Regions from separate parts of the Homo sapiens genome. Here all the other regions are reported to be linked to region 3. The links are microRNA targets in miRTarBase. Many come from high-throughput screens and were not tested one by one. Region 3 holds a microRNA gene; each other region holds the end of a gene's coding sequence.

What was found. Region 3 holds the annotated microRNA hsa-miR-5087 (GGGUUUGUAGCUUUGCUGGCAUG, at 1,896-1,918, shown strand). A microRNA usually pairs through its seed, bases 2 to 8, with sites in the 3' UTR of a target mRNA and lowers its output. Matches are read on the target gene's strand: a 7mer-m8 pairs with bases 2 to 8, a 7mer-A1 pairs with bases 2 to 7 and ends in A, and an 8mer does both.
Region 1: the mRNA of ALDH1L2 is a reported target of hsa-miR-5087. Seed matches in the 3' UTR shown: 8mer at 1,433-1,440.
Region 2: the mRNA of ELF4 is a reported target of hsa-miR-5087. Seed matches in the 3' UTR shown: 7mer-A1 at 2,931-2,937 and 7mer-m8 at 2,962-2,968.
Region 4: miRTarBase lists HNRNPA3 as a target of hsa-miR-5087. Seed matches in the 3' UTR shown: 7mer-A1 at 1,076-1,082 and 8mer at 2,228-2,235.
Region 5: the mRNA of SEPTIN6 is a reported target of hsa-miR-5087. The part of its 3' UTR that is shown has no 7-base or 8-base seed match.

The regions. Positions count from the first base shown.
Region 1 is chr12:105,021,173-105,025,759 of GRCh38, reverse strand. It overlaps ALDH1L2 (aldehyde dehydrogenase 1 family member L2), which reads left to right. Exons shown (of 23, transcript NM_001034173.4): 23 at 1,281-4,587. The coding sequence ends at 1,336. Among named protein-coding and RNA genes, the nearest start is that of NOPCHAP1, 37 kb to the right of the region's middle.
Region 2 is chrX:130,062,688-130,067,015 of GRCh38, reverse strand. ELF4 (E74 like ETS transcription factor 4) reads left to right here. Exons shown (of 9, transcript NM_001421.4): 9 at 1-3,061. The coding sequence ends at 295. Among named protein-coding and RNA genes, the nearest start is that of ELF4, 46 kb to the left of the region's middle.
Region 3 is chr1:148,331,853-148,336,439 of GRCh38, reverse strand. It overlaps MIR5087 (microRNA 5087), which reads left to right and starts at 1,886; the gene lies at 1,886-1,961. LOC124904404 (a long non-coding RNA gene) reads right to left here and starts at 2,575. Exons shown (of 3, transcript XR_007066576.1): 1 at 2,489-2,575; 2 at 1,681-1,786. LOC124904402 (a long non-coding RNA gene) reads left to right here. Exons shown (of 3, transcript XR_007066574.1): 3 at 521-1,026. It also overlaps the pseudogene RNVU1-21. RefSeq lists enhancers at 1,029-1,138, 686-1,193, 1,194-1,703, 1,419-1,718, 2,069-2,148.
Region 4 is chr2:177,218,898-177,221,897 of GRCh38, forward strand. It overlaps HNRNPA3 (heterogeneous nuclear ribonucleoprotein A3), which reads left to right. Exons shown (of 11, transcript NM_194247.4): 9 at 140-262; 10 at 350-417; 11 at 511-3,000. The coding sequence ends at 402. Among named protein-coding and RNA genes, the nearest start is that of HNRNPA3, 7.6 kb to the left of the region's middle.
Region 5 is chrX:119,622,066-119,626,652 of GRCh38, reverse strand. SEPTIN6 (septin 6) reads left to right here. Exons shown (of 11, transcript NM_145799.4): 10 at 1,274-1,318. The coding sequence ends at 1,277. Among named protein-coding and RNA genes, the nearest start is that of NKRF, 18 kb to the right of the region's middle.

The DNA of each region.
Region 1 (4,587 bases), not on the chromosome of region 3:
CCTCAGTCTGGTACGTTGTTTCAAAAACTGAAATGTTTGTGATTTACTGAAATTACAGTCTGCAAATATAAGTTTAGTTCATTTGGAGTTTTTTTGTTTTGTTTTGTTTTTACATTTTCTCTTTACTAATGACTTTGGCCATGTATTTGCAGCAGTAAAAGTAGCTCTCATTTTAAATTCCATTGGGTGAAGGTAAGGGCTTCCCCCCCAACTTTTCCATGTCTTTAATCTGGTTTTCATGCCTGAATCCAAATCACTGTAGGAGACTTTCTTAGGGAATTTATTATTAGAAAGTGAGGCATCCCTGTTTCACCCATCTTTTGAGAGAGTGTATTTGACCAGCTCCAGGTCTGTTTTACTATAAAATACTACAGTTTTTCTAATAGTTTCTTCCTCCCCCAATTTTAAAACCCCTTAGCCCAGTGGTTGTCAACCTTAGCTGCACAGTGGATTCAAATCACCTGGGAGCTTCAAAAAATACAGATACTGATCTAATTGATCTGGGGTGTGATGTGGGGTCAGGAGTCTTAAAAGCTCCCTGAGTGATTCTAACATGCGGACAAAGTTGACAGCCCTTGTTTTAGCTCAGCTTCCAGAATCACGCACTCATTAGTTTTCCCATGGTATTCAGTGCCCTTTAACCTCTGTAGAGATTGATGACAGTACTGGCTCAAAATAGAAACAGTCAAAGAAAGGCAGACCTATTTATTTTTGCCTAGACAGGTTTCCCTGTGTTTCTAACAAACAATATAAACTGAATTTTCCTTATCTTTAAAATAAGGTTAAACCAAATGATTTCAAACTTTCCTGTGCTCAGTTCTGCTTTAATTAATATAATCCAGAGGACAGTATCCTGGTTACTTCTGTTTAGTTTAAATGGACAAAAAGGCAGAGTCTGTCATCAAGTAGGGAAATAAAAGAGAAGGGTTTTGGTTTGAAGCTGACCAGGCAACACTCTCTGCTCCTTAGAAGGCCTGGTAGCTGGTCTGGGCTGTTACTATTCAAAGTGTGGTCCATGGACCACTAGCATCAGCATCATCAGGGAATGGTTAGCAACACAAAACCTCTGGGCCCACACCAGACTTAATCAGATCAGGATCTGCAACTTAACAGAGTCTTCAGATGGTTAGTATGAACTTCAAAGTGTGAGAAGCACTGGCTTAGGCCACATTCTATTTACTTAGTGACCTGGACACCTACGTATACCTATGTCTGAAGGTCTGAAGACATCACATGTCTGCCTCTGAATGTGGTCTGTCAACTGCTTTTCTCTTCCCTAGGTGAGGAAGCTCTAAATGAATATCTCAAAACCAAGACGGTGACACTGGAATATTAGAGCAACACCATCATCAGGAAAGCCTTGACAGACAGCCCTTTACAACTCTGGACACACTTAAGAAGATTGGGTGTGTTGAGGCAGGAGGTGTCAGCCACAAACCAAAAAATACACAGATGGACCATGAAGAGGGCCAGGCCATGTTAAAGCATTTACACATGTGCCTGAGTATTTTCTAATACACCTTCCAGTGATTTGGAGTTGTTGCATTTTGACTATGTTGTATATCATACGTATTTCTAAAATACCAAGCTGTTTCTCCCCTACCTAGACAAATCTATTCATGGTTCCCATCTTGAAGATGTCAGTACCATGCAGTTATAATACACAAGGTGCATTTATTGGAAACTTTGTATAATATGTACAGGTTTTTAACCTCTGAACTATACATAGGGGGTTATTAAAAAGATTTTCTATAAGTCTTCTAAGGAACAGTATAACCTGTAAGGAATGTGAAGGTAGTTCTTTTTTAGTATTTGGAAATAAGATACATCTTTGTGCCTTTGATATTCCATTTTTTAACCCACTGTGATGGGTGATCAACCTAGAAACATTATCTTGAGTACCTACTAGGTACCAGGTACTATATTATGTTCTGAGGAGTATAGAGAATTTAATGATATGATGGCTGGCCCCCACATAGTTTAAATTTTAGTAAATAGCTTTTGAAGCAAATTTTACATATGATATAGTAGAAGGCTGATCCTGGTCGTATCATACCATCTTCCTATCTATGTAACTTTGGGAAACTCTCGCAACTCCTCTGAGCCTCTGCTTCCCTATGTGTAAAACAGGGATAGTAAATGCCTTCCTCAGGACCCTTAATAGGAGAATTCATTGCAGTAATGTAAGTAAAGCACCTCACATTAATGCTTTGCTCATGGTAAGTACTCAAATTTAACTCTGATTTCCTCCGTCACCATTCTTAAAAGATATTGAGATAGTTTAATTAACTAGATGAATTCATTTCCCACAACCCTTTTCAATCATCAATTCCTAGATATTTTTCTCATCCATTGTTCTGACACAATGCCTGATACAGCAGCACTGAAAAATGCCACACAATGAAAAATGGCAATAGTACAAGGAAAAGGGGTGCTTTTCTTTGGGCAGCTCGCTCGTCCTTCATGGGACATCTTACTTTCCATTTTTCTACCTATTGGTTCTGCTGTTCACTGGCTGTGTGATCTTGGGCAAGATAGTAATCTAATATCTCAGAGCCTAGGTTGAGTATCTATAAAATGAAAATCAAATCTCTATCTCAGTAGGTGTTGCAAGGATTCAGTGAGATAATATACATAATGCACTTAACAAGGCGTTTGGACCATAGCATTGAAGAAATGGAAACTATTAACAGCCCATTTCCCATTGGCAGACAGAAGTAGTCAGGTGAGTAAATTTTCACCATCTATGTGTGACTAGAAGGCGGCAAATTTCTGAATCACATGAGTCTCCAAAAGATAGCCAGAAAGTTAAATTCTATTAATCCTCCTTTAAAAATAAAATTTCAGTAAACATTCCTTTTTCTTTGGCTTTGAAGAAGCCTTAGGGAATATTTGTCATTTTGGAGACTTGGCAGAATAACATGAGGGGATTGTAGGGAATCAATAAAAACTAAACAACAAAATCAGAGTCAGAGAACATTTTCAAAAGGAAGAATAGGAGGTTTGATCCCAGCATGATAAACAGAGCGAATTTGGCCTGGAAGCACTTTTGATTATACTATAGCTCATTTACCATCCCAGAGTTTGGCACAGCTGAAATTTTAAGTTGGAATGAATATTCACTGGGCCCAAAATGACAGTTCATATTTGAATAAAAGTGACAAAAGCCTTTTTATAAGTAATCACTTTTAAGTGAAATGTTTTAACTGATTTCATGTGATTTAGAATATGATTTAATCAAATTATTTTAATGATAGATGGAATGGCAGACAAAAACATGCCTGTCCTTCTAGACTGATTTTACTTTACCCTCTAATATTCATCTCAGTAGCAGTGTTTTAAATATTCTCTGGGCTGCAAAACTCTTTGGGAATCTGATAAAAGCTATGAACACTCCCTGTGTCCCGCTTCTACCCCCAAAATTCATGTGCACACACACAATTCTGCAAGTATCTTCAAAGGGTTCACAGACCTCCCAAAGGCCATGCTTGGGCCCCAGATTAAGAACTCCTTTCTCCATAGCAAGTTTTAAACATTTCTTACCAGCTTACATTTTTAGATCTGGCTGATCAGAATCAAAGGCTCTGTGTAATACATAAAGTTACCAAGTGAACTGGAATTGGAACATCACCCTCCCCAGCCTGCTAGGTGATTTACTTAACACATAGAGTAATAAAATCATCGCTGTTGCTTTAGATCACGGATTATTTTGCTAATAATGCTAAGGATGAAGCTGTGATCTTATTATCACCTGAATCGGGAGGTGTGGACACTTTAAGCAGTTCCACTTTCCTTCTAATTCCCCATCCCCATGCCTTTGCTAAAGCTGTCCCTTTTGCTCTAACACCCTTCCTGGACCTTCCTACCCTAGCTGGGCTAAGTGTTTCTCCTCAGCGTTCCCACTTGTTTCAAACATAGCACTTACCACTTGTACTAAAATTACTTGCCTTCTTAATTAGATATGAACAACCCTCCCCAACTCCAGTATGGGCCTTCTGTCAATAATAATACGATATGACAGCTACCATTTATTAAGGGCCTCCTGTATGAAAGACCTTAGGCTAAGCATGTTTTAAATGTTATTTAATCTTCACAATCTCTGAAAAAAATGAAGAAATCAACGTGCTTTTCTTACTACCTCTACCCCTAAGCCATTATTACTTTTTTTTTTTTTTGAGACAGAGTTTTGCTCTTGTTGCCCAGGCTGCAGTGCAGTGGTGCAATCTTGGCTCACTGCAACCTCTGCCTCTTGGGTTCAAGCGATTGTCATGCCTTAGCCTTCCAAGTAGCTGGGATTACAGGTGTGTGCCACTACACCTGGCTAAGTAGAGATGGGGTTTCGCCATGTTGGCCAGGCTGGTCTTGAACTCCTGACCTCAAGTGATCCACCTGCCTCCGCCTCCCAAAGTGCTGGGATTACAGGCATGAACCACTGCACCTGGCCTGTTACCTCTTTCCTACAATTTTGCTCAAGTCTCCCAACTGGTCTTCTGGATTCCTCTCTTCTGCGGTCCTGTTCAAAGCTTAAGTCAGACAGTGTCACTTCACTCGTCTGTTTAAAACCTTTCAATGGCCCCCATTTCACGT
Region 2 (4,328 bases), not on the chromosome of region 3:
GAGGGAGCTCCTGAGAGATCAGGCTCATCTTCAGCCACTTCCAACCCAGGTGGTTTCCAGGGGTTCCCACAATCCGAGCCTTCTGGGCAACCAGACTTTGTCTCCTCCCAGCCGCCCCACTGTTGGGCTGACCCCAGTGGCTGAACTTGAGCTCTCCTCAGGCTCAGGGTCCCTGCTGATGGCTGAGCCTAGTGTGACCACATCTGGGAGCCTTCTGACAAGATCCCCCACCCCAGCCCCTTTCTCCCCATTCAACCCTACTTCCCTCATTAAGATGGAGCCCCATGACATATAAGCAAAGGGGTCAGGGCAAGTGTGACCCACCAGGCAAAATTGAGCAGCATTTTCATAGGGACCGACTTCAGTAGCACACCTGCCCCTGCATTTCAGTGGGATGTCAATACACTTGACCCCAAGTCCCCCGGCCCTGCCTGGTGTCACTGTGGCCAAACAGTGCCCAGCTTAAGCATCCCTGGCATCAGACTATGGCCTTCAAGAGCACTAGGGCATATGCTTTTGGCAGCATAACGGGCTGACTTGGTGATGGAGGGAAAAAGCCTTGAGCCAGGCAGAAGTTTGTGGCCAGGGTTTGTGCAGCAGCTTTGTGAGAAGAGCCCTTCTACCTGGCTCTATCTCACTGGCTGCATTCCCTACACAGGGAATTTACTACCCTATATGTGAATATCCCTGTATGTACTTGTGTGTACTTGTTGGTCTGTATCTTAGTTTCTTTGGGGAGGACAGGGCTGTAGCTGTGAGGTCTTGTCTCCAAGGGTGTGTGTATGTCTCCGTGGATCAGCCACAGGGATAGGGATTTTGTTTTTAAGGGAAAGCATTCTCTAATTCCCTTTGTTCATGCCGAGATTCAGTTGCTCTGAGACTATGGGGTACAAGTTTGATCCTCCGAATCTGGAGATGTTGTAGAGCTGGAACGAGTGCAGAGTAGGAACGCTTTGATGCGCATGCACATTGGGGAAGATGCGCTCCTCAGGGACACAAAGGCCGAGTGGGGTAAAACCACGAAGGGAGGGAAGGGAAGTCAGCTCTGGGAGCAGCCCTCACTGGCTGGACCAAGGTACTCTTCCTGGAGTTTGCCGTGTTAGCAACCACAGTCACCTTGCAGTCAGGCTGGAATCTTGGGCCACCCCAAAGTGCTTTGCTGAAGGATTTAGACGGGGATGAAGTGCCCTCCAGCCTCAGAGCTAGCCACAAAGCCCCCAGAGCTGAATTCATTGAGTATTTGTGCCTAGGGCTTGGGCTGTTTGTGTGATACCGGCCCCCCGCCAGACAATAGCCTTTGCTGACACCCCAGCCTACTTCCCCGATCCTGGGCTCCCTCTTGATTACTTTTTGACATTTTCCAGCTGTCAGGCATCACTGCGGCTAGTCCGGCAGCGACCTAGATGGGGTCCACCCCCATTCCTGCTCAAGCATGGGCACCTACCACATGGTTTCTGCTGCTCAGCCTGCCTGCAACTCACCTCGAAGGCGGACCAGCCTGCCTCTGTGATGACTGCAGCAGACCTCCTTGGGTGTACCAATGCCCCTCATCTCCCACTTTCACACCTAACCCTGACTCCTTCACCAAGAAGACGGGAGTCGGCAGCCAGGAGTTCCCGTGGCACCTCTCTCTCTTCGTGGCTCCCTGCTTCCCCCTTCCCTCTTTCCGAGGAAGGGTCAACCTATTCTCTCTCAAAGCCAACCCCTAGGCCAATTGCCTGGATCTCCTCCCCTCTCCCTTCTTTAAACGAGCTTGCCTCCCTCCTGCCAAGTTTGAGGGCAAGGCTAAGAAATGTCAGCCACGGAAACAACTCTATTATCTGGTGACTTTGGGTAATGTGAATCAGTGCCTGAGGACCTTTGCTGTGTCCTTGGTACAGAACCATCCACTTGACCTAACTACCTCCCCTGGCCGCGCTCTCGCTCTTCTCTTCTTTGTTAAGCCAACAACTATCACCCTCTCCTACTCTTCTTCTCCCTGCCCCCTGGAGGGCACTGTGTTTGGTTGTGCAAATGTATTTACTATGCGTGTTTCCAGCAGTTGGCATTAAAGTGCCTTTTTCTAATAAAATCAGTTTATTATGACAGTTTCCTGATGGTTGAAAGTAAGCATCTTGATAAAGGGTCACCATTAAAAAAAAATTTTGCATAAAGGTGCTGCATGGGTTGGGGTAGCCCCGCCCCCACCTGAAAACTGGTTTCTGCCACCCCTACTCCAACTCCATGGAAACTCATTGCTGGAAGGTCATCAATGACCTCATGGTGAAATCAAATGTCTTCTTCACAGTTCTCGGGCCCCCGTGAGCCCACACTAGCTGGGCTCTCCTGCATCCCCCATCACCCTTTCCGGGGCTGGTTCTTCACCTACCACTTCCAACGTGGCTGTTCAAGAATCTCATCCATTTTGGGCTCATTTTGGCTCCTCGGAGATGGGTCCTAAATCTAGAGCTCCAGTCCCAACCTTTCTCTTAAGCTCCTGGCTCACATTTCCAGCAATCTGCTGAACATTTCCATGTGGGTGCTTGTCAGCTCCTTAAAGATAGCCCCTCTATCAACAATGTTTTTGTTTGTTCGTTTGTTTTTGAGTCAGAGTCTTGCTCTGTCGGCTGGAGTGCAGTGGTGCAATCTCGGTTCACTGCAACCTCTGCCTCCCAGGCTCAAGTGATTCTCCTGCCTCAGCCTCCTGAGTAGCTGGGAGTACAGGCACATGCCACCATGCCCAGCTAATTTTTGTATTTTCAGTAGAGCCAGGGTTTCACCATTTCGGCCAGGCTGGTCTCGAACTCCTGGCCTCAGGTGATCCACCCACCTTGGCCTCCCAAAGTGCTGGGATTACAGGCGTGAGCAACCACGGCTGGCCAACAATGGATTTTTAAATTATTTCCACGCTCACAAAAAACCTTTCCAAGATGACGGGTTGATGGGTGCAGCAAACCACCATGGCACATGTATACCTATGTAACAAACCTGCACGTTCTGCACATGTATCCCAGAACTTAAAGTATAATAATAATAATAATAATAATAATAATAATAATAATAAAAATCAAGCAAACAAAAAGGCCGTCACGACTTGCCTATTTCTGTTAATGGTGCCACTGTTTTCCTGACCTCTTAAATTTGAAATTTCAGAGCTGTCTGATCGTTGCCTTCACTTCACCCCCATCCCCCTCTCCCGTCTCCCGAAGTCCAGCTTGTGGTTTGCAATGTCCGTAAAACCTCGCCTTTCTTCCACATTCCCAGAAGCCTCCACCCTAGTTCAAACTACCCAAGACACACAGGGGCTCCCAGCGTGATCTGTCTCAACCCCTCCCATTTGCCCTTTGATAAAAAGCCCTCACTGACTCCTCCTGGCCTACAGGTAGGGGTGATACTCAAAATACTTAATCTCTAATCCTTTCTAAACTTAGCCCTTTCGTTGCTGAAGCCAGTCCAGGGGTCCTGGAATAGGGATGGGGGAGCACTTGGGCTCAGGGCAGTAGCTCCGGAAGTATTTTAAGCTTAGCATCAGCCCTGTCTTCAGGACAAAGCCCCAAGTCCTTGGCCTGCCATCAAGACCCTTCACCTTTGGGTCTTAACTGACTTCCCCAGTCAACTCACCCTGCTCCTTCTGCCACCACTCATACCCCAAGGCACTGCTCCAGTCAAACTGATGGATTTGCTGGCCTGTGAACATGCCTCTGTTTACAATTTCCAAACTCTGTGCTTTTGCTCTTATTATCTACTACATATATTCTAAGCATTTTAAACCTGGAAACCAAGATCCTCCATTTATCTTTTACCTGCTCTAGGCAATACAGACAAACTCAACATTATTTACACACTCCTGTGTTTTCTTAATGAATATTCTTCCCTTCTATGTATCTTTTCCTTTAGAAATACAATCCATTGGCCATGCGCGGTGGCTCATGCCTGTAATCCGAGCACTTTGTGAGGCCGAGGCAGGCAGATCACGAGGTCAAGAGATCGAGATCATCCTGGCCAACATGGTGAAACCCCGTCTCCACTAAAAATACAAAAATTAGCTGGGCATGGTGGTGTGTGCCTGTAGTCCCAGCTACTCGGGAGGCTGAGGCAGGAGAAACACTTCAACCCGGGAGGCAGAGGTTGCAATGAGCCGAGATCGCGCCACTGCACTCCAGCCTGGCGACAGAGTGAGACTCCATCTTGAAAAAAAAAAAAAAAAAAAAAAGAAACGAAAAGGAAAGAAAGAAAATCCATCCACAGCCAGGCACAGTGGCTCACGCCTGTGATCCCAGCACTTTGGGAAGCTGAGGTGGGCGGATCACCTGAGGTCAGGAGTTGGAGACCAACATGGCCAATATGGC
Region 3 (4,587 bases):
TAAACCAGCTCATCTGATCCTGTGGCCCCCACCCAGGAACTGACCCAGCTCAAGAGCATGCTTTAGCTCCCTGTGAGTTCATCTCTGACCTGTCCAATCAGAACTCCCAACTCACTGTCCCCCACCCACCAAATTATCCCTAAAAACTCTGGTCCTAGAATGCTCAGGAAGACTGATTTGAGTAATAATAAAACTCTGGTCTCCCACACAGCCAGCTCTGGGTAAACAACTTTCTTTATTGCAATTCCCCTGTCTTGATAAATTGGTTCTGTCTAGGCAGCAGGCAACAGGAACCCACTGCGCAGTTATACTCCCCCAAAACCCACTACACACTTTATGATTTGATTTATATGAAAGCAAAGGACAGGAAAAACTTGCCTGATAGATTTGGAGTCTGTGGAGTATTGTCAGAGTTTGGGATTGTATTCTACAAATTAAAAGTAATCAGTTAAGCACCTCAAATAAAATTTCCCCCAATTTTTTTTCTCCAAATTTGGACCACTTGTTTCTCTCTTTGCAGAATATAAAGTGCTAACATGAGGTAAGTGCTACGGTCTACAGAAGGCCATGGAAGAGATGACAAACTCCAGCACCATGCCTGAGTGTCCAGTGTGCTCTGCTGGGGCAGCATATTTGTACATTGCTGTATTTGAAAAAATCCTACAAGATTCATGAAATTGGACCACCGTCTTTATAGCACTACTAATGGTAAAACAAGTAAGGATGGCTGGTTTGCAGTCATCTGAGCAGCATCTCTAGTTTCATAGATATGGTTTCTCTCTGATACTGAACGGCTTCCAATTTCAAGTAGAATGCTACATCAGAAGAATAACGATGGGAAGAGAACTAGTTTCTTGTGTAATCCTACATGTTTTAGTCTGCGCATTACAAACCATTATTTGAAGAAGGGTGGACAGCCTCCAGCTGTCTGCCAAAGAGGTCATCGGCAACACAGGCTAAGAACCGGCTTCTGGGCGGGCATGATGGCTCAGCCTGTAATCCCAGCACTTTGGGAGGCCGAGGCGGGCGGATCACCTGAGGTCAGGAGTTCGAGATCAGCCTGGCCAACATGGTGAAACCCCGTCTCTACTAAAAATACAAAAATTAGCAGGGCTTGGTGGTGTGCTCCTGTAATCCCAGCTACGCAGAAGCCTGAGGCAGGAGAATCGCTTCAACCCTGGAGGCGGAGGTTGCAGGAAGCAGAGATGATGCGACTGCACTCCAGCCTGGGCGACAGAGCGAGACTGCGGCTCAAAACAAAAAACTACAACAGAAACACCTGCTTCCTTGGAAAGATTGGGGCGGGGAAGGGAGGGAAAGGAAGGAAAGGCAGACGTCACTGTCCCCGCAGTCTCTGGCAGCATGTTGGTCGGCTGAGTGGCAGAAGGTGGGGCGGAAAAGCAGAGCCGGACGGGAAAGGCGCTGTCAGTGACATCACGGATAGGGCGACTTCTATGTAGATGAGGCAGCACAGGGGCTGCTGCTTCGCCACCGGCTGCTTCGCTACGAAGGAGTTCCCGTGCTGTGGGAGCAAGTCCAGGACCGCTGTTCAGACCTGAAAGTCCCAGCTGTGTGTCAAGGCTGGAAGGGCTCCGGGGTGCGCGGGGCAAGTGACCGTGTGTAAAAAGGGTGAGGCGTGTGGAGCAGTAGCAAGACGGAAACGTGTGAACTCCTAATTACCTGGCATCGGAGAGGACGTTATGAAGGTTGTTTTCCCAGGGCGTTGCTTTTCCATTGCACTGTGGACGTGCTGATCCTGCGATTAACCCAAATGGGAGAAATTTGGCTGCACAATAACAGTGGAGAACTGCGTTAGTGCTTTCCGCTGAAATCTTGCAGTGCAAAAAGTGAATTCTGCAGGAAGGGCTACTCTTAGTTTCTACTTAGCTTTCTACGGGTTTGTAGCTTTGCTGGCATGTTAAGTGTTGTCCTACAGTCGCAAGCATAAGAAAGAGAAAGTATTGTGTTACTGTCCTCTCCGCCCCTATCATGAGCTTGCTTAACACAAGCTAAGTGGCCCCAGTGCTCTTCTCTTCCCTTTCCACGTGGGGCTGCTTTTTCAAGATTGCTTCATGGTCTCCAGTGTCTTGGGTTCTCACCCTATGTGAAAACCTTCGTGTTTTTTCGTAGCCCCCGGAGTCACCTTTCACACAGCCTGTGCTTCTAACCGCAGCCCCCACAGAAGTTTGTAGGATTTCTGTGCTAGCGGGGAATGTGTTCTCACCTCCTAGAGCCAGGTAGAAATTCTAGGCAGACGGGTGCTGTTCTTTGGGATGAAAGCAGTGTCCCTGTTCGGTTGTAGACACAACACGCTTGCTTTCTGTAGGGGAACGGCTCTCCCCGCGCCCAGGTGCCCTTGCTTATGTTCACCGAGGCCTTCAGGTCAGAACCGCAGTCTGACTTGTCGGCAGAATGTGTCGGCGATCTACCCCAACTACCCAGCAATAAAATGGGACACATTACAGAAACATGAGATAGCATGGATTACCTCAAAAACATCATGCCGAGTGATGAAAAGAGGGCATCCTGTGTGGCGCCATCAAGGTGAATTTCTAGAACAGGTAAAACTAACCTGTATAGTGACAGAAAATACATCATTAATTGCTGGGGCCAGGGGGAGGGCGGGACTGACTGCAAAGGGCACAAGAGGACCTTTTAGAGTAATAGTCATCAAACTTGAAATGGATGCATTGTACCATAGGCAACTCACACCTTAACTTGGTTGTAAAAAGGAATAAGAAAACCACTCCAAATCTTAATGTCTTCTCCTTAATTTAATGTATGTTTGCCCTTAGAGGAGTCGTTTAGACAAATGTCTTTCTAACTGTGCTAGGGAGTTCAGGAATTCCTTCATTTCTGTTTCTGTCTCTTTGTCTGCAGTTAAGTTCATGCACTATTAAGTGGAATATTTGTAAAATAAAAATAGAGTCTAAGCTCAATTTTATAAAAGCATACATATATGTTTTTATATATTTTTATATTTTTAAATATAGAATTATATATACTATATAATTTTATATATTAAATATATATTTTATATATTTTTATAATTTTATAATTTTTTCAGGCATATATATCCTTCTTTATTTTTTTTCTTCTTTTTTCTTTTGTGGGGCCTGGGGGGAACAGTCTAGCTAAAATATACTTTCTTCTCTCTGTAGATATAACACAATACCATGACTCCAGTGTTGCCCGAATGTTATGAGAAGTTATTTTTGAACTTAAGGTGATCAAAAATTTTACATATGTTTACATTTTCTCTACTGTTAGTACGGTCTATGCTTAGCATGTATAAATTTTTTTTAAAAAAGACAATAGCTTAAAAATGATTCGGAAGAAAAATATGTAGATATGTTAACAGTAGTTAATTCCAGGAGGTGTGAATATGGATGACCAGTTATCTTCCTCTTTATGAATTTTTTATATTTTTAAATGGAAAATCCTCAATGACCTGGAAGTGAATGAACAGATTAGATTTGGAAGGGGTGTAGGGCAGGTGAGAGGAAAATGTTAAGGGAAGGACAAACCCAGTTCTGGCAGGACCATGTTTAAGTTGAAGGTTTCTGGGGAGAAGTTGTTGGGATAAGAAGGATATGAAGGAGGCAGGAGAATCATGAAAATATTTAGGACAGTGTATTGCCTGTCTTATCATTCCTCCTCCTTTTGTGTTTCTTCAAAAGAAATACAAAGACTTAACATTTCTTTTGAAGCATGCTTACAATTTGTGTTTCTCTTTTATTAGTGTAACTGCCTGGTAAGTTTATTCTGCCCATTGCCCAGATAAGCCAATGGAGCTGAGAACAGCAGGCTTTCCACAATAGAGAAAGAATTTAACAAATGCAGATGCAGCTGAGGGACCAGGACAGGGGTTTATTATTACTCAAATCTGCCTCCCCCAAAATTCAGAGACTAGGGTTTTTGTTTTGTTTTGGTTTTGGTTTTTGGTTTTTGGTTTTTTGTTTTTTAAGGATAGTTTGGCAGGCAGGGGGCTAGGGAATGTGCAAAGCTGATTGGTTGGAAATCACAGGGTGTAAGAGCTTGTTTACTTGCACTGAGTCAGTCCCTGGATGGGGCCACAGGACCAGATGAGCCAGTTTACCAGTCTGAGTGGTACCAGCTAGTCCATCACAAGGCAGGGTCTGAAAAATATCTTAAACACCAATATTAGGTTTGACACTAATAATACTATATATAGGCACAATTGGGGAGCTTAGGAATCATGTGACTTCTGGCTGCACGGCTCCTGAGCCATAAATTCCAATCTCGTGCCTAATTTGTTAGCTTTGCTAAGGAGGTCTGATCCCCAAGAAAGGAAGGGGTTTGTCTCAGGAGCGACAATCATCTTTGTTTCAGAGTTAGACTAAACTAAACTCCTCTCATAGTTAGCCTGGCCTATTCCCAGGAATGGACAAGGGCAGCTCAGAGATTAGAAGCAAGATGCAGTCAGTTAGGTCAGATTTCTTTCACAGTCATAGTTTTCCTATGTCAGGTTTTTCTCACTGTCATAATTTTTGCAAGGGTGATTTTGTTAGGAGCAGTATAAACACAGTGGTTCTGAGAATGTCTTCTGGAGCCAGGCTGCCTTCA
Region 4 (3,000 bases), not on the chromosome of region 3:
CAGTTACCCCAAGTGGTGCTACCACAGTGATGTGTATAAGCATGCTACCATAATTCTCAAAAGATAATAGTTACATACGTTAAAAGGGGAAAATGATGATTGTGTAGGTAAACCACACATAAAACCTTTCTGATTTCAGGTAACTATGGTGGTGGTGGGAACTATAATGATTTTGGAAATTATAGTGGACAACAGCAATCAAATTATGGACCCATGAAAGGGGGCAGTTTTGGTGGAAGAAGCTCGGGCAGTCCCTATGGTGGTAAGTACTTTCTTAAATCAATTCTTTAGAGCCTTTTTAATTTAAAAAATGTGCATACTTCTTTTAAAATACTATGTATATTTTCAGGTGGTTATGGATCTGGTGGTGGAAGTGGTGGATATGGTAGCAGAAGGTTCTAAAAACAGCAGAAAAGGGTAGGTATCTTTAAATTTTTATTATGATGATAAAAGAATATGTGGAACTGTTCACTGAGTGTAATAATTTTTTTATCCTGTATTATTCAACAGGCTACAGTTCTTAGCAGGAGAGAGAGCGAGGAGTTGTCAGGAAAGCTGCAGGTTACTTTGAGACAGTCGTCCCAAATGCATTAGAGGAACTGTAAAAATCTGCCACAGAAGGAACGATGATCCATAGTCAGAAAAGTTACTGCAGCTTAAACAGGAAACCCTTCTTGTTCAGGACTGTCATAGCCACAGTTTGCAAAAAGTGCAGCTATTGATTAATGCAATGTAGTGTCAATTAGATGTACATTCCTGAGGTCTTTTATCTGTTGTAGCTTTGTCTTTTTCTTTTTCTTTTCATTACATCAGGTATATTGCCCTGTAAATTGTGGTAGTGGTACCAGGAATAAAAAATTAAGGAATTTTTAACTTTTCAATATTTGTGTAGTTCAGTTTTTCTACATTTTAGTACAGAAACTTTAACAAAATGCAGTTTCGAAGGTGTTTCCTTGTGAGTTAACAAGTAAAGAAGATCATTGTTAATTACTATTTTGTATGAATTTTGCTAAAGTTAACTGTAAAGAAACACCTGCTGACTTGCAGTTTAAGGGGAATCTATTCTCCCCATTTCCAAACCATGATATGAATGGGCGCTGACATGTGGAGAGAATAGATAATTTGTGTGTTTGCAATGTGTGTTTTAGATAAATAGGATTGGGTATTTAAATTAGCATTTGTGAATTTAATAGCATTAAGATTACCTTCAAATGAAAAAAAATCTCAAAATTTCTATTTGGTTTTTGTGCATTTTCTTTTAAAATGTAATCATATGATTTTAGTGTGTTAGACTTGCTGAGTCCTAGCTGTGTTTAGAACATCTCTATTCTACATTTACCTTGGTCAAATTTGAACTGCTGCCATAGGTTTTGGGTGTAAAGAATGTTTACTGCCCTCCATTTAAATTCTGAAAAGGGATGGTGGATGTTTTCCCTCTCCTACGTTAGAAACCATTCTTAAAAACTTTTGAAAATATAGAACCATTAAGCCTGCTATATCTGAGCAAATTAGTGGGTACCTTTTTTTTCTTATTTAAAGCACAAGAGGCCCATAAATCTTGAGTTACTTTAAATTCTTTTTTTTGATACAAGTTTTCAGAGCAAGAGAATAAAAATCATGTGTTATTAAACCCCTAACTGGCTGGCATGCTTTCCTGTTTGTATTCTATACATTTTGCTGGATGAAACCAAGGATAGTTCAGGTATAATTGTCCAAAATAACCTAACTGCAGCAGAAATGTAGCACAGTTGCTTAGTACAGGCTTCTCACTTCCTACAGACCTGAATTCAAATTTGGATAGTCTGAGTTCTTAAATTCCCAAAGAACACACTGTTATTTCTTGTGTATATTTCAACATAAATCATGTTGTTACCAATTTGTTTGGAAGGCCCTGGTTGAGAAGAGTTTTAGTTAATAAGGTCATATATACATATATTAATATAAACCAATGTCTACTGTTTTGCTCCAGCTAGTGCTTACAGTTTCATTCGAGCCCTGAGTATGTGCCCTGCTGTTACTCTCTTTGGTAGTTGAACGTTGAATTCAAGTCTTTTGTTTTAAGAAGTACTAAGCAAACAAGCAATAAAAAGGGGAATGGGGTGTGCTAGTGTTTGAATATGCTCTCTTGTTGCTCTAATTCTGTGCCTCTGTGCATTAATATTTGGATGCATGCAATGCCAGCATGGAAATTGGTCTTCACACATACTGCAGTTTTCCAGAAACATTCACAAACCAATAAATGTAACAGACATTCCATTTGTTAATGGGCATATATGTGAAAAGCAGTGTAGAAAATAGGCTAATATTAGAAAATGGTTAAGTCCTAAATAACTTCAAGTGTGGTTATATAATGGACACTGTCAATGTTCATAACTTAAACCTGGGTACCTGGTCAAAATAATGCTTGGGAAACATTAAAATTGAGCTAAATTGTCTCAAGTTCTTTTATTCATATAAATAAAGTTTAAAGGAATGGGGGAGATTAACATTTCCTGTTTTATGTTTGTGAAATTGTTTGACACAACCTTGACAGTATCCTTTAATGGCATGAGGTTAATTGTACTGTTAACCAACTTTCTATGTTCTGGAACTAGTATTATAGTGAAAACATTTACAGTAAGTTGATGTTTACAACCTATAAGCAGGTGAAATCTGTGTATGTGACCTGTTTATAAGTTGTATTAGCTTAGCTCTTGTGAACAGTGTGGAAAAGTAAGCCATGAGGAGAGCGATTTAACCACCTTTAAAGGACCTAAGATGTGCTTTTTAAGCACAGTGTGGATCACAGAAACTCACTAAGACAGGACTTCAGCAGCCTTTTGTGTTTGGACAAGTCAGCATAAATAAAGAATGACAAGGCAGCAGCAAGAGCTTCAACTACAGAGAAGTGAAGGCATAAGATACTATGATGATAGTGAGCAACTTTCCAAAAGCTAGTTAAATCTGCTTATTACAACTGAAATATCGAAGAAAGTCTAGCAGGAAGGAGCTCTTCGCCTT
Region 5 (4,587 bases), not on the chromosome of region 3:
CTTAATACTATATGTCAAATTCACTGATGAATGAAATTTTTTGGTATTACCTGATGGATAAAGTTCAACTAGCCAGAAAAAAGTCTCTTTGGACACACCCTGTACTGTATTAACTTATCTGTCATGGTGTATTAGTTGCACCAGCAGGAATGAATTCCTATTTTTAAGATCAGAAAAATCTAAATTTGTCATCCAGCTGTAACCTGCTGCCTTCATAGTCCTGTGGTATTTGTTAACTCAGTACCTGGGGCAGTTTCATAGCCTGCTTGTGGGAGTTAGGAATTGGTTTGTTCAGGCTACAATGAAACTATAAATATTCCCTATTCAGATGTTCAGTAAAAGTTCTTCTTACATCAAGCTTTCCCCTTGTTGCCTCATACTGACTGACTTCTCCCACCCCAGGCAGGAGACCCCAACAGGGAGATACCCCTCTCTACTCTTCAGGAATATTTGGGGTTGGTGACAGTGCCCCTTTCCAATTCTGAAATGGGTGAAAACCCTGCTGGCATGTGGCACCTTATATTAGCAATAAGGGCCTAACAGAATGACCTGTCTTCTTCTGTACTTCCAGATGCAGAAGTGGCCCTGAATCTTGGCTTCTTATGTAATTTCATGAGCAATTTGTTAACTTCTGGAAGAGCCACCGTTAGACCTGTGCTACCCTCCTCCCATAGTCACGGTAGTGAGTTTTGAGGGCAGAAATGGTGGTAGTAGTATTTCTTCTTGAGAGATGGTGGTTGGATCTAAGAGTCACATATTCAGAATTTCCTTTAGCTGCCCCTAAAGAGATTAAGAAAGTACTGGCCAGCCGTGGTGGCTCATGCTTGTAATCCCAATACTTTGGGAGGCCAAGGCGAAGGATTGCTTGAGTCCAGGAGTTTGAGATCAGCCTGGGCAACATAGTGAGACCTTTGTCTCTACAAAAAAAATAAATAAATAAACATTAGCTGGGCCTGGTGGCACTTGCCTATAATCCCAGCTACTCAGGAGACTGAGGTGGGAGAACTGCTTGAACCCGGGAGGTTGAGGCTGCAGTGAGCCATGATTGCGCCACTGCACTCCAGTCTGGGCAACAGAGAGAGACCCTGACTCAAAAAAAAAAAAAAAAGAGTATCAGTGTTTCAGGGGTTCCTACCAGTCCACCCTTCCCACTTCCCCTTCCTGCTACTCCTAATCACCTTTGACCTCTAACCCTTCATTGTTTGTGTCAAGTCATAATATTTGATTTCCCCTCATGCTCACTCCATCTTCATCAGCTCTTACTGTTTTACAGTTAACTCTGCTGTTTGCTGCATGCTGCATGAGACCCAGGGTCCTGGTAAGCTTGATTAACTCTAAATAGAACTGGCAGTGGCTTCTAGAACATATCTCCCCCAATCCCGCACCCCCAACACAAGCATCTAATCGTAGAAGAAGCTGCTTCATTGGTCTAGCTGGTTTTCTCTCGTGACTTATAATATGCAGAAATAGTCTGGTGTGGTTTCAGGTGTACATGTGGAATGCCTGCCTGCCTGCCTGATTAAAGTGAGGGGTCGTTTTCAGACTTTTGCTGCTAGAACAGCTGGGTAACACAGGTGGATCCTGTGATCAGTATTTGAGGTTTCAGTGTGGGAAGTTTTTTTCTTAAAGAGCCATAATCGGGCCGGACGCAGTGGCTCACAGACCTGTAATCCCAGCACTTTGGTAGGCCGAGGAGGGCAGATCACCTGAGGTCAGAAGATTGAGACCATCCTGGCTAACACGGTGAAGCTCCATCTCTACTAAAAATACAAAAAATTAGCCGGACATGGTGGCACAGGCCTGTAATCCCAGCTACTCTGGAGGCTGACACAGGAGAATCGCTTGAACCTGGGAGGCGGAGGTTGCAGTGAGCCGAGATTGCACCATTGTACTCTAGCCTGGGCAACAAGAGCGAAACTCCATCTCAAAAACAAAAGGAGCTATAACCATTATTTTCAAAATTAATGAAACCGTGGTGATGAGAGAAACTGGGTTTCACAAGCTCCGTCCTGCAATGTCACAGTCAGCATCAACCCTCTCCCATCCCCCTGCATCAGGTTTGAGAATGTCCAGAGTCAATGGAAACTCACTTCTCTGTTTCCCGCTGGTGGCAGTTTCATATCTGAGGGGTTCAAGTCCTCAAATTTCCTTTGACTGTACCCCTCAAAACCATAATAAGGCTGAGAGCAGTGGCTCACGCCTGTAATCTTAGCACTTTGGGAGGCCGAGGCGGGCGGATCACCTGAGGTCGGGAGTTCGAGACCAGCCTGACCAACATGGAGAAATCCTGTCTCTACTAAAAATACAAAATTAGCCGGGCGTGGTGGTGCATGCCTGTAATCCCAGCTACTCGGGAGGCTGAGGCAGGAGAATTGCTTGAACCTGGGAGGCGGAGGTTGCAGTGAGCCGAGATCGCACCTTTGCACTCCAGCCTGGGCAATAAGAGCGAAACTCCGTCTCAAAAAAACAAACAAACAAACAAACAAAAAAAAAAACAAAAAAAAAAAACCCATAATAAAAGCGGAGGAAAATGAAGAGATCTTAGAAATTATAGAGAATTCCTTACATTTAATCCTACAAGTACTGGCTTCATGAAAACCTCTTATAAGGAGATCAGCAGGTAAGGATTCCTGAGTGCTAGATGTTGTGTTAATAGAAGTTTATAAAGTTTCACATAGTTTATAGGGAGACTGAAAGCAGGGATTAAGGACCTTCTATCTCCTCTACTAGACTCAGGTAGTGGATGGAAAGGAAATACAAACATTTTTAATTTAACATAATTAGGGTTTTTTTTGTTTGTTTGTTTCTTTTTTTGAGACGGAGTCTCACTCTGTCACCGAGGCTGGAGTGCAGTGGCACAACCTCAGCTCCCTGCAACCTCCGCCTCCTGGGTTCAAGCAATTCTCATGCCTCAGCCTCCCAAGTAGCTGGGATTATAGGCATGTGCCACCATTCCTGGCTAATTTTTGTATTTTTAGCAGAGACCGGGTTTCACCACGTTGGCCCAGGCTGGTCTCAAACTCCTGACCTCAGGTGATCTGCCTACCTTGGCCTCCCAAAGTGCTGAGATTACAGGCGTGAGCCACCGCGCCCGATGAAGGGTTATTATTATTTTTTTTAAACTTTACCGTGGAAACTTTCAAACATGAGCAAAATAAGAGGATAATACAGTTCAGCCCCCAGGCAACCATAAACATATGCCTAATCTTGTTTCATCAATTACTACAGACCTGCTGAATTATTATAAAGCAAAACTATATCATTTTATCTGTAAATACTTTAGTATATATTTCCAAGAGATAATGATTCTTTAAAAAAACATAACCACAACCCCACCATTATCACACCTACAAAATGAACAATAATTCATTAACATGAAATGTCTAGTCAGTGTTTGAAACATCCCGGTTGTCTCATAAATGCCCTTTTACATTTGGTTTGTTTGGATCAGGGAATATAAAATATAGAGAAGACTTTTCCCCACTCACCCATGTAGTTTATGATTTAAATGGAGAGCCTGCTGTTAGTCACCAAACTGATTGCCGCAGCTATTGCACTGGGGACTCGGGGCAGCTGGCAAAACATCCTGCTTGGAAGCAAATCCTGAAGAGGAAGTCCATAGAGGTTTCTGCAACATAAGGCCCATGAAACCGGGCCAAAGGAAACAATCTTAAAAGAACAGTGACTTGATTTACTGTCTGGCTTAACAGCAAGTCTTGGAGCCCCTGCTAGTTGACTGGAATTAAACAGCAGATTTCCATTTAGGAAGACAGTCAGTTCCTAGAATGCCTGTCCATTCTTTGCACTGTATGTAGTTCCAGTGCGTAGTGAAGTGTCTGACATGTAATAGGAACTCAGTTCATGTGTTATGTTCTTTGTTCTCCCATTTTTAATGAGGTGAGCAGGAAATATGTATTCTAGTTAATGAGATTTCAGTTAATTCAGGTTTCACTGCACGTGGCTTGACACAGTTGCTTACAGGTTTCCCCAAGTAAATCATTGTTAGTGGCCATTCCTAAAATGAATTCTGGCAAAACTATAATTAAAGCTACACTTTACAAGTGAGAGGCAATTGGTAAACAGCTGGAACAGCCAACCCCAACCCCAAGTAGGTTGGCTCTTCCTGGCAGGATTCTCCCTGGCAGACCACGAAAGCAATTTCAGACCAACGAGTCAGGGGAGGCTTTGGCTCCCCAGGATCTGAAAGCAGCAAAGGCAACCCGCCCCCTCCTCAAAGCCCTCATTCAAGGGGTGGATCACGAAGGCCACCTAGAATGCAGGCAGAGTGAGGCTTACTGTGCCTCCACATTTTGAAATTGCTTGAGGCACTACTTATAGCTCTCTGCATTTGTAAAAGCGATTCCTTTGTGACCCCCTACATCGTTGCAGATACTCTACCTCAATCATTATTGGTCCTTAGGAGTGCACAGTATATGGATAGTATACACACATCAAAATACGTCAGCCTTCCCATGAAACCTAGAACATAGGCCATTGCAGTGTTTTTTAGATTACTCTTCCCCTAGGAAGTAGACAAAGAATAAAAATAAGATATGAGCATTTGTATAGCTTTTATTACTTTCCAAA